Linked DNA regions of Homo sapiens. The protein of the gene in region 2 interacts with the protein of the main gene of each other region in a pairwise test. Each region holds a gene or a part of one and is shown on either strand. Other genes may lie near its edges.

Evidence for each region. The genes of interacting proteins can lie anywhere in the genome.
Region 1: the proteins of CLDN8 (region 2) and CLEC17A interact in binary tests that used the Homo sapiens proteins (3 or more experiments, as listed by UniProt).

The regions. Positions count from the first base shown.
Region 1 is NC_000019.10:14,600,081-14,603,833, reverse strand, and holds part of CLEC17A (C-type lectin domain family 17, member A), read right to left. Parts: coding exon 3,652-3,753; exon of another isoform or gene 3,572-3,651; intron 1-3,571. UniProt on the Homo sapiens protein: Cell surface receptor which may be involved in carbohydrate-mediated communication between cells in the germinal center. Binds glycans with terminal alpha-linked mannose or fucose residues.
Region 2 is NC_000021.9:30,214,705-30,218,457, forward strand, and holds the start of CLDN8 (claudin-8), read right to left. Parts: upstream 1,394-3,753; 5' UTR 1,222-1,393; coding exon 544-1,221; 3' UTR 1-543.

The sequences.
Region 1 (3,753 bases), on a different chromosome or scaffold from region 2:
AGTCTCCAGCACATAGTAGGTGCTCAGGAAATGTTGGTTGAATTAATGAATTAAGAAGTGAGCTATGGGTTAGGGCACGGTGGCTCACTCCTGTAATCCCGGCACTTCGGGAGGTCAAGGGGAGCAGATCACTTGAGATCATTAGCTAGAGAGCAGCCTGGCCAACATGATGATACCCTAACTCTACTAAAAAAAAAAATACAAAACTTAGCTGGGAGTGGTGGCACGTGACTATAGTCCCAGTTACTTGGGAGGCTAAATCAGGAGGATTGCCTGAACCTGGGAGATGGAGGCTGCAGTGAGCCAAGATCATGCCACTGCACTCCAGCCTGGGCAACAGAGCAAGATCCCATCTCAAAAAAAAAGTGAGCTATACTACTTTGCACAGATTGTCTCATTGGATCCTTATCATGACTCACTGAAGCAAGTATTATCATTATGCCCATTTTGTAGATGAGAAAACTGAGGCACAGAGGGGTTAAGTAACCTTCCCAGGATCATTCAGTCTGTAGATGTCCCAGTAGATACCAGTTTGGAGTAAAGACAGCAAAGACCCGATGTGTGCTCCCTTCCACCTTGACCCCACAAAAGCTGTCCCCATTTAGAAGTAAAATGGGAGAACCCAATTGACTGAGAGTAAATGTACACCATTCTAGCAGAATGAGAACTCAAGAGAGAAACTAAAATGAGTAATTTAAAGGAAATGTAGTTGTATTTCTTGTGAAACTGAGTTAGGGAATATGATTTGCACCTGCCTCATTTACATTACCTAATTTAACTCCTTCAAAAGCCCTGTTTTGGCCAGCCACGGTGGCTTATGCCTGTAATCCCAGTACTTTGGGAGGCCAAGGCAGGTGGATCACCTGAGGTCAGGAGTTCGAGACCAATCTGGCCAACATGGAGAAACCCCATCTCTACCAAAAGTACAAAATTAGCCAGGCATGGTGGTGGGCGCCTGTAATCCCAGCTACTCGGGAGGTTGAGGCGGGAGAATCACTTGAACTCGGGAGGCAGAGGTTGCAGTGAGCCAAGATCATGCTGCTGCACTCCAGCCTGGGCAACACAGCAAGACTCCATCTCAAAAAAAAAAAACTGTTTAACTACTCATACAAATAATGCTATGAAACAGAGGGATAAAAAACAGAAGGGACACGACATACAGGAAAATAATAAGATGATAGACCTAAATCCAACCCAATCAGTAATTATATTAAATGTAAACGGTCTAAAAATACCAATTAGGCTGGGTACAGTGGCTCATGCCTGTAATCCCAGCACTTTGGGAGGTGAAGGCGGCAGATCACTTGAGGTCAGGAGTTCCAGACCAGCCTGGGCAACATAGCAAAACCTCATCTCTACAAAAAATGTTAAAAATTATCCAGGCATGGTGGCACACACCTGTTGTCCCAGCTACTTGGTGGGGAGCTGAGGTGGGATAATCACTTGAGCCCAGGAGGCCAAGGCTGCCATGAGCTGAGGCTGCGCCACTGCACTCCAGCCTGGGTGACAAAGTGAGACCCTGTCTCCAAAAATACATAAATAAGTAAATGAAAACACCAATTAAAAGCCAGAGATTATCAGATCAGATTTTAAAAATCCAAACCCAACTATATACTGTCTGGGAAAAAAAAAACATTTTAAATATAATGACATAAATAAATTAAAAATAAAATGAATAGAAAACATAGAGCCTAGGCAACATAGCAAGACCCTGTCTCTACAAAAGTAAAAATAATTTGCTGGGCCAGGCGCGGTGGCTCATGCCTGTAATCCCAGCACTTTGGGAGGCCGAGGCAGGCAGATCACCAGGTCAGGAGATCGAGACCATCCTGGCTAACACAGTGAAACCCCGTCTCTACTAAAAATACAAAAAATTAGCTGGGTGTGGTGGCGGGCGCCTGTAGTCCCAGCTACTCGGGAGGCTGAAGTGGGAAAATGGCGTGAACCCGGGAGTCAGAGCTTGCAGTGAGCCGAGATCGCGCCACTGCACTCCAGCCTGGGTGACAGAGCGAGACTCCATCTCAAAAAGTAATAATAATAATAATAATTTGCTGGGTACAGTGGCAAGTGCCTGGTTGTCCTAGCTACTCAGGAGGGTGAGGCGAAAGAATTGCTTGAGCCTAGGACTTTGAGGCTGCAACGAGCTATGATTATACCACTGCACTCCAGCTTGAGTGACAGAGTGAGACCTTGTCCCTGAAAAACAGAAAAAAGGAAACATAAACCATACTATAGTCCTATGTCTATGGTCAAGACCATGGACTTGAAAGCCGGCTACCTAGGCTTAAATCCCACTAGCTGTAAGTGACTCCAGGCAAGTTGCTTACATGTACTGGAACCTTGACTTCCTCACCTGTGAAGTACAGATGATACATATTGTGTACAAATAGTAATACTACCTAAATTGTAGTAGCAAATCATTAAAGCTATTTACCCATATTCCAATCCTCCTTCTGGTTGCACGGAGGTGAGACTTATTTCCCTACCACCTTAAAAGATAGGCGTGTACATGTGACTTTTGTGAGCAAAAGTAAATGGAAACTCTGACAGTCAATGTATGATTTCCCTCGTCTACTTTCACCATTGGACTATGGAGACTGTCTGTTACCGCAGCATAAAGTAACCCCTCCTAGCCCAGCGTGGTGGCTCACACCTATAATCCCCGCACTTTGGGAGGCAGAGGTGGGAGGATCACCTGAAGTCAGGAGTTCGAGAACAGCCTGGCCAACATGGAGAAACCTCATCTCTACTAATAATACAAAAGTTAGCCAGGCGTGGTGGCACATGCCTGCAATCCCAGCTACTCGGGAGACTGAGGCACTAGAATTGCTTGAACCCGGGAGGCAGAGGTTGCAGTGAGCCAAGATTGCACCACTGCACTCCAGCCTGGGTGACAGAGTGAGACTCCATCTCAAAAAAAAAAAAAAAAAAAAAAAAAAAAAGAAGGCCGAGCGTGGTGGCTCACGCCTGTAATCCCAGCACTTTGGGAGGCCGAGGCGGGCAGATCACGAGGTCAGGAGATCAAGACCATCCATCCTGGCTAACACAGTGAAACCCTGTCTCTACTAAAAATACAAAAACAAAATTAGCCGGGCGTGGTGGTGGGCACCTGTAGTCCCAGCTACTCAGGAGGCTGAGGCAGGAGAATGGCGTGAACCCGGGAGGCGGAGCTTACAGTGAGCCAAGATCCAGCCACTGCACTCCAGCCTGGGTGAAAGAGCGAGACTCCATCTCAAAAAAAAAAAAGAAAAGAAAAGAAATAAACTCTTCCGACTGGCATACTAATGTATAGGTTGTCGTGAGGATTGCATGTGTTAATGACTGTAAGATGTAAAGTATTTGGAATGCAACCTGAAACATAAAAAGTGCTACCTAACAGATATTAATTATTGTATTTTCATGTTAGAGATAAAACCGATACTTGAAATGTACAGAGGTTAAATCAACACAACCAGAATTTGAACTCAAAAACAAAGCATGTCTTCTTAACCTCTGCATGATACTACCTTAGGAAGAGCTTGCTGTTAAAGTTTTAGTAACTGAAAAGTAATTCTAATTTCTTGCCATCCAGGGAAGGGAGGGATGTGTGCATCCTGGAAGAGAAGCAGGCTGTCCCTGAAGGTTCTCAAAGGTTCAGTGGGAAGAACTCACGTGCTCAGCAAAGCTATTGATGATGACCAAGTGAGAGTAATTCTCCTGGCAGAACATCCGGGCCTCATCCCATGACTTGGTGCTTGGGGAGAAGTAGTAACA
Region 2 (3,753 bases):
CCTTCATTTTAATCTTCATTATAAATGGAGGACATTAATCCCTAAGCTGTTTTTAAACAATTAATAGTAACCTTCTTCAACCCTATCCATGATTTCCCTGAAAAGCAATAGTTGAGTTCTATTTATTCAGTGTAATGGACTGGCATTTCATTTTAAATAAAACCATATAAGCATGTCTCTATGTGAGATATAAATGTTACACTCATCTATGTACATAATGCTATGTCGTGGAGAAATTACAGTAGTAAAATAATGCAGTCTTTAGCAATGTCATTTTGAAGTAAATGATAAAAAGAGTAGATGCTTGAACCACCTTAGAAAACAAATTACTATACTTTCTAGAACAATCAAAGCATTGGGTTTAATATCTCATTCTGCTGAAATAGCTTATAGAATCATAAATAGCTGATGCACAGTTCCTGTAATTAAGATTAGGCAGTTAAGAACAGTAAATCAAAGTTTCTTTGGGGTCCATTTTGAGAAAGTAATATAGATTTTTGTCATTTGCATGGCTTTATAGTAAAGTTAAAAAAACATACACAACTACACATACTGACTTCTGGAGTAGACGCTCGGTGACTTCTTTCCGGTGTGATAACTTTTTTGGGTTGTGCGATGGGAAGGTATCGAGTATCTGTAGCTACTGCTCTTTTCGTTGCAACAAAAAACGCAGCAGAACAGAGCTCCTCCAACAATCAGCACCAGTGCCGTGGTCCATCCTAAGTAGAGAGCTTCTCCAAGCTCACGTTTTTGGGCAACATTCACTATTGAGTTATAGAAATCTCTGATGATGGCATTGGCAACCCAGCTCACAGGGATGAGCACCACCATGCCCGTGATGATGAAGATGATTCCAGCCGTCAGCAGAATGTGAGCCTTCACCTTCTCATTGTCCCCCGTGCACCTGGTGCATTTCATGCCAAGGATGGCCATCATGAAAGCCAAGAAGGACATCACGGAAGCAGCACACATCAGTCCTCTGGCTGCCTGTAGGTCCGGAGAAAGAGCCAGCAGGGAATCATAGATTTTGCACTGCATCCTGATGTTAGCCTGCCTCACGCAATTCATCCACAGTCCTTCCCAGAAGTTTTCAAAAACCACGATGTTGTTTTCAATGAAGGCCGACACTCTCCACTGAGGCATGACAGTGACAGCCACTGTGCCCACCATTCCAACACCACCAAGAAACAGCCCAGCGATTTCTAAGGCATGGGTTGCCATTATCCTCTGGGATGAGTTTTAGCCAGCTGGACTCCGGAACTGCTACTTCTGCTTTGAAGCAGGGTTCTCTGTGCCACAGAAGAGAACAGTTTTTCCTGTAGTAATGAACTCGGAACCCAGTGGTTTTTCAAATAAGAGCTGCTTTGCTACTTCTGGCCAGATAGTATCCAGTGCTGGCTGGCTGAGATGGCCCTGCTATTGGCTGCAACAGGTAAACTTACAAATCAGGTGTGGCAACTTTCTCAGCCAATAAAAGGTGGATGGTAATCCAGGTGTGTCTAAACCAACACTTGGGTACTTGGAACAGCTAGACCTGCACATAAACATTCTTTATACTTCTCGGTCTTCCAAGAAGACAGCAGTATGTTTACCTGTAGGCATAGTTATAAGTGGTTGCATAAGCATCAAGAAATGAGCCGATCCCTTGTAATGTGAAAGGTGCACCTTGTACAGGCAATTCTGAAACTCTTAATAAGAGCTGCTGGGACCAAGGGATAAAATAAATTATCTGCCGAAGAATTCTGCAACGCTGTTGAAATGCCAAAGTGAAACGAGAGTAGGGGATTGAAAGATTGCTTTTACCTGGGAAGCCACATTCTTTGGGACACATGTGATCCAAGTGATTGATTTAATTTTTCTACAACTTCAAAGCAAGCTCTACTGTGGTGAAATCAGGGAACAGATCATGCCAGAGGACAAAATAAGCTAAAGTAATTAAATACACAAGGCTGTCCTTCTCCTTGGCACTGAAAACATATTGGAGTTCTTTAAGCCAGAAAAAATACTCATTGACACTTTTCTGATAATCTTCACTTATAAAAACATTTTTTGCCAAAATAAAAATCACCAGATGATTATCTTATGTATCCAGCACTATAGCATTAAAATAAGCTTATGAGCTTATTTTGTGGTGTTATTCTTGCTGCTTTGAATTCCTGGGCTGAAGGAACTAGAATTCTGAAGATGACACAAGACCCTTGGGCCTATACAAATGGCTGATATTTCAAAATAAGATATTTACAAGACAAGGGAACTATATTTACCAAACTGTATTATATTAGGTATTAACCAAATATGTTTTCCTACCTTTTAATATTATGTCTGCAGTAGGACATAGAAACCCCTAAACGCAAGACAATTTGAACTTTCTTCTCAAAATAATGATGCTCTAACAGTAGTGCTATACTAAGCATAAATGTTTATCTGAGAAAATTCGACTAGCAATTTTCTTCTGGAGATCACCTTAAGCTCTCTGTCTGATCTTTCCAAAGTTTAAGCTGCCACTTCATTTTCTTTTCTTCTTAACATCATAAAAAATGATTTTCTCTTTACAGTTTTACTTTCTCTCTGTTTCATTGGACTACCTTAAATCCAAATATGGGAGAAAATCGTTTCTGCTCACTGATTAAACTTTGAGAGTTTCATGGTTCAAAAAATCTGAGTCATTTGTGGATATTATTAAAACAAAAACTATATGGTAGAAAGGGCAAAAGGAGGATCAAGTAGACTGTCTTCTAAAAAAGAGGCAGGACAGACGCACAGTAGTATGAGTTGTTATAATTTTGTTAAACAGACGTTATAAACCTTATAAAAAGTTAAAACTTAATATTTACAGAAATATTCTCATTTGTTGACCTGTGAGGTGCCAAACTTCAGGGTGTCCCTTAGGCTGATGCAGAAAATATGCAGCATTTGGCCGGGGCGGTGGCTCACGCCTGTAATCCCAGCACTTTGGGAGGCCGAGACGGGCAGATCAAGAGGTCAAGAGATCGAGACCATCCTGGCTAACACGGTGAAACCCCGTCTCTACTAAAAATACAAAAAATTAGCCTGGCATGGTGGCGGGCGCCTGCAGTCCCAGCTACTCGGGAGGCTGAGGCAGGAGAATGGCATGAACCCAGGAGGCAGATCTTGCAGTGAGCCGAGATCGCGCCACTGCACTCCAGCCTGGGTGACAGAGCAAGACTCTGTCTCAAAAAAAAAAAAAAAAAAGAAAAGAAAATATATGACATTTTCTTCATCAAGTTTCTATCAGTTACAGATTTGTGGTGGAGGGAGACTTAGATTAATCTTGGGAAAATAAGATTTTAAAAGTTGAGATTTTAAACTTTCAAAGTTTAAGAAGTGAGCAGAAAACATTTTCTCCCATATTTGGATTTAAGGTAGCCCGATGAAGCAGAGAGAAAGTAAAATTTCAAAGAAAGGATCATTTTTATGATGTGAAGAAGAAAAGAAAATGAAGTAAAGCTTAAAGATTTTCCTTTTGTGCAATCCACAAAAGGAAAAATGACATATAAACAGAAGATATTTTTCATCTTTAATTGTCAAACTGGGAAAAAGGAGTGATTGACAGAACTGAAAAATGAAAAAGAAATAATATAACTGGTTGAGATAATGACTACGTGAAGCTACATTTTAAGGGATGTCAAGGCATATATTGCTTCATTGAAATTTCTTTTCGAATTCCCGTGTGGCATGTTTCTTAGGAGCTCTGTTTAAATATTGCTGACTATCCACATCAACACAGGAACG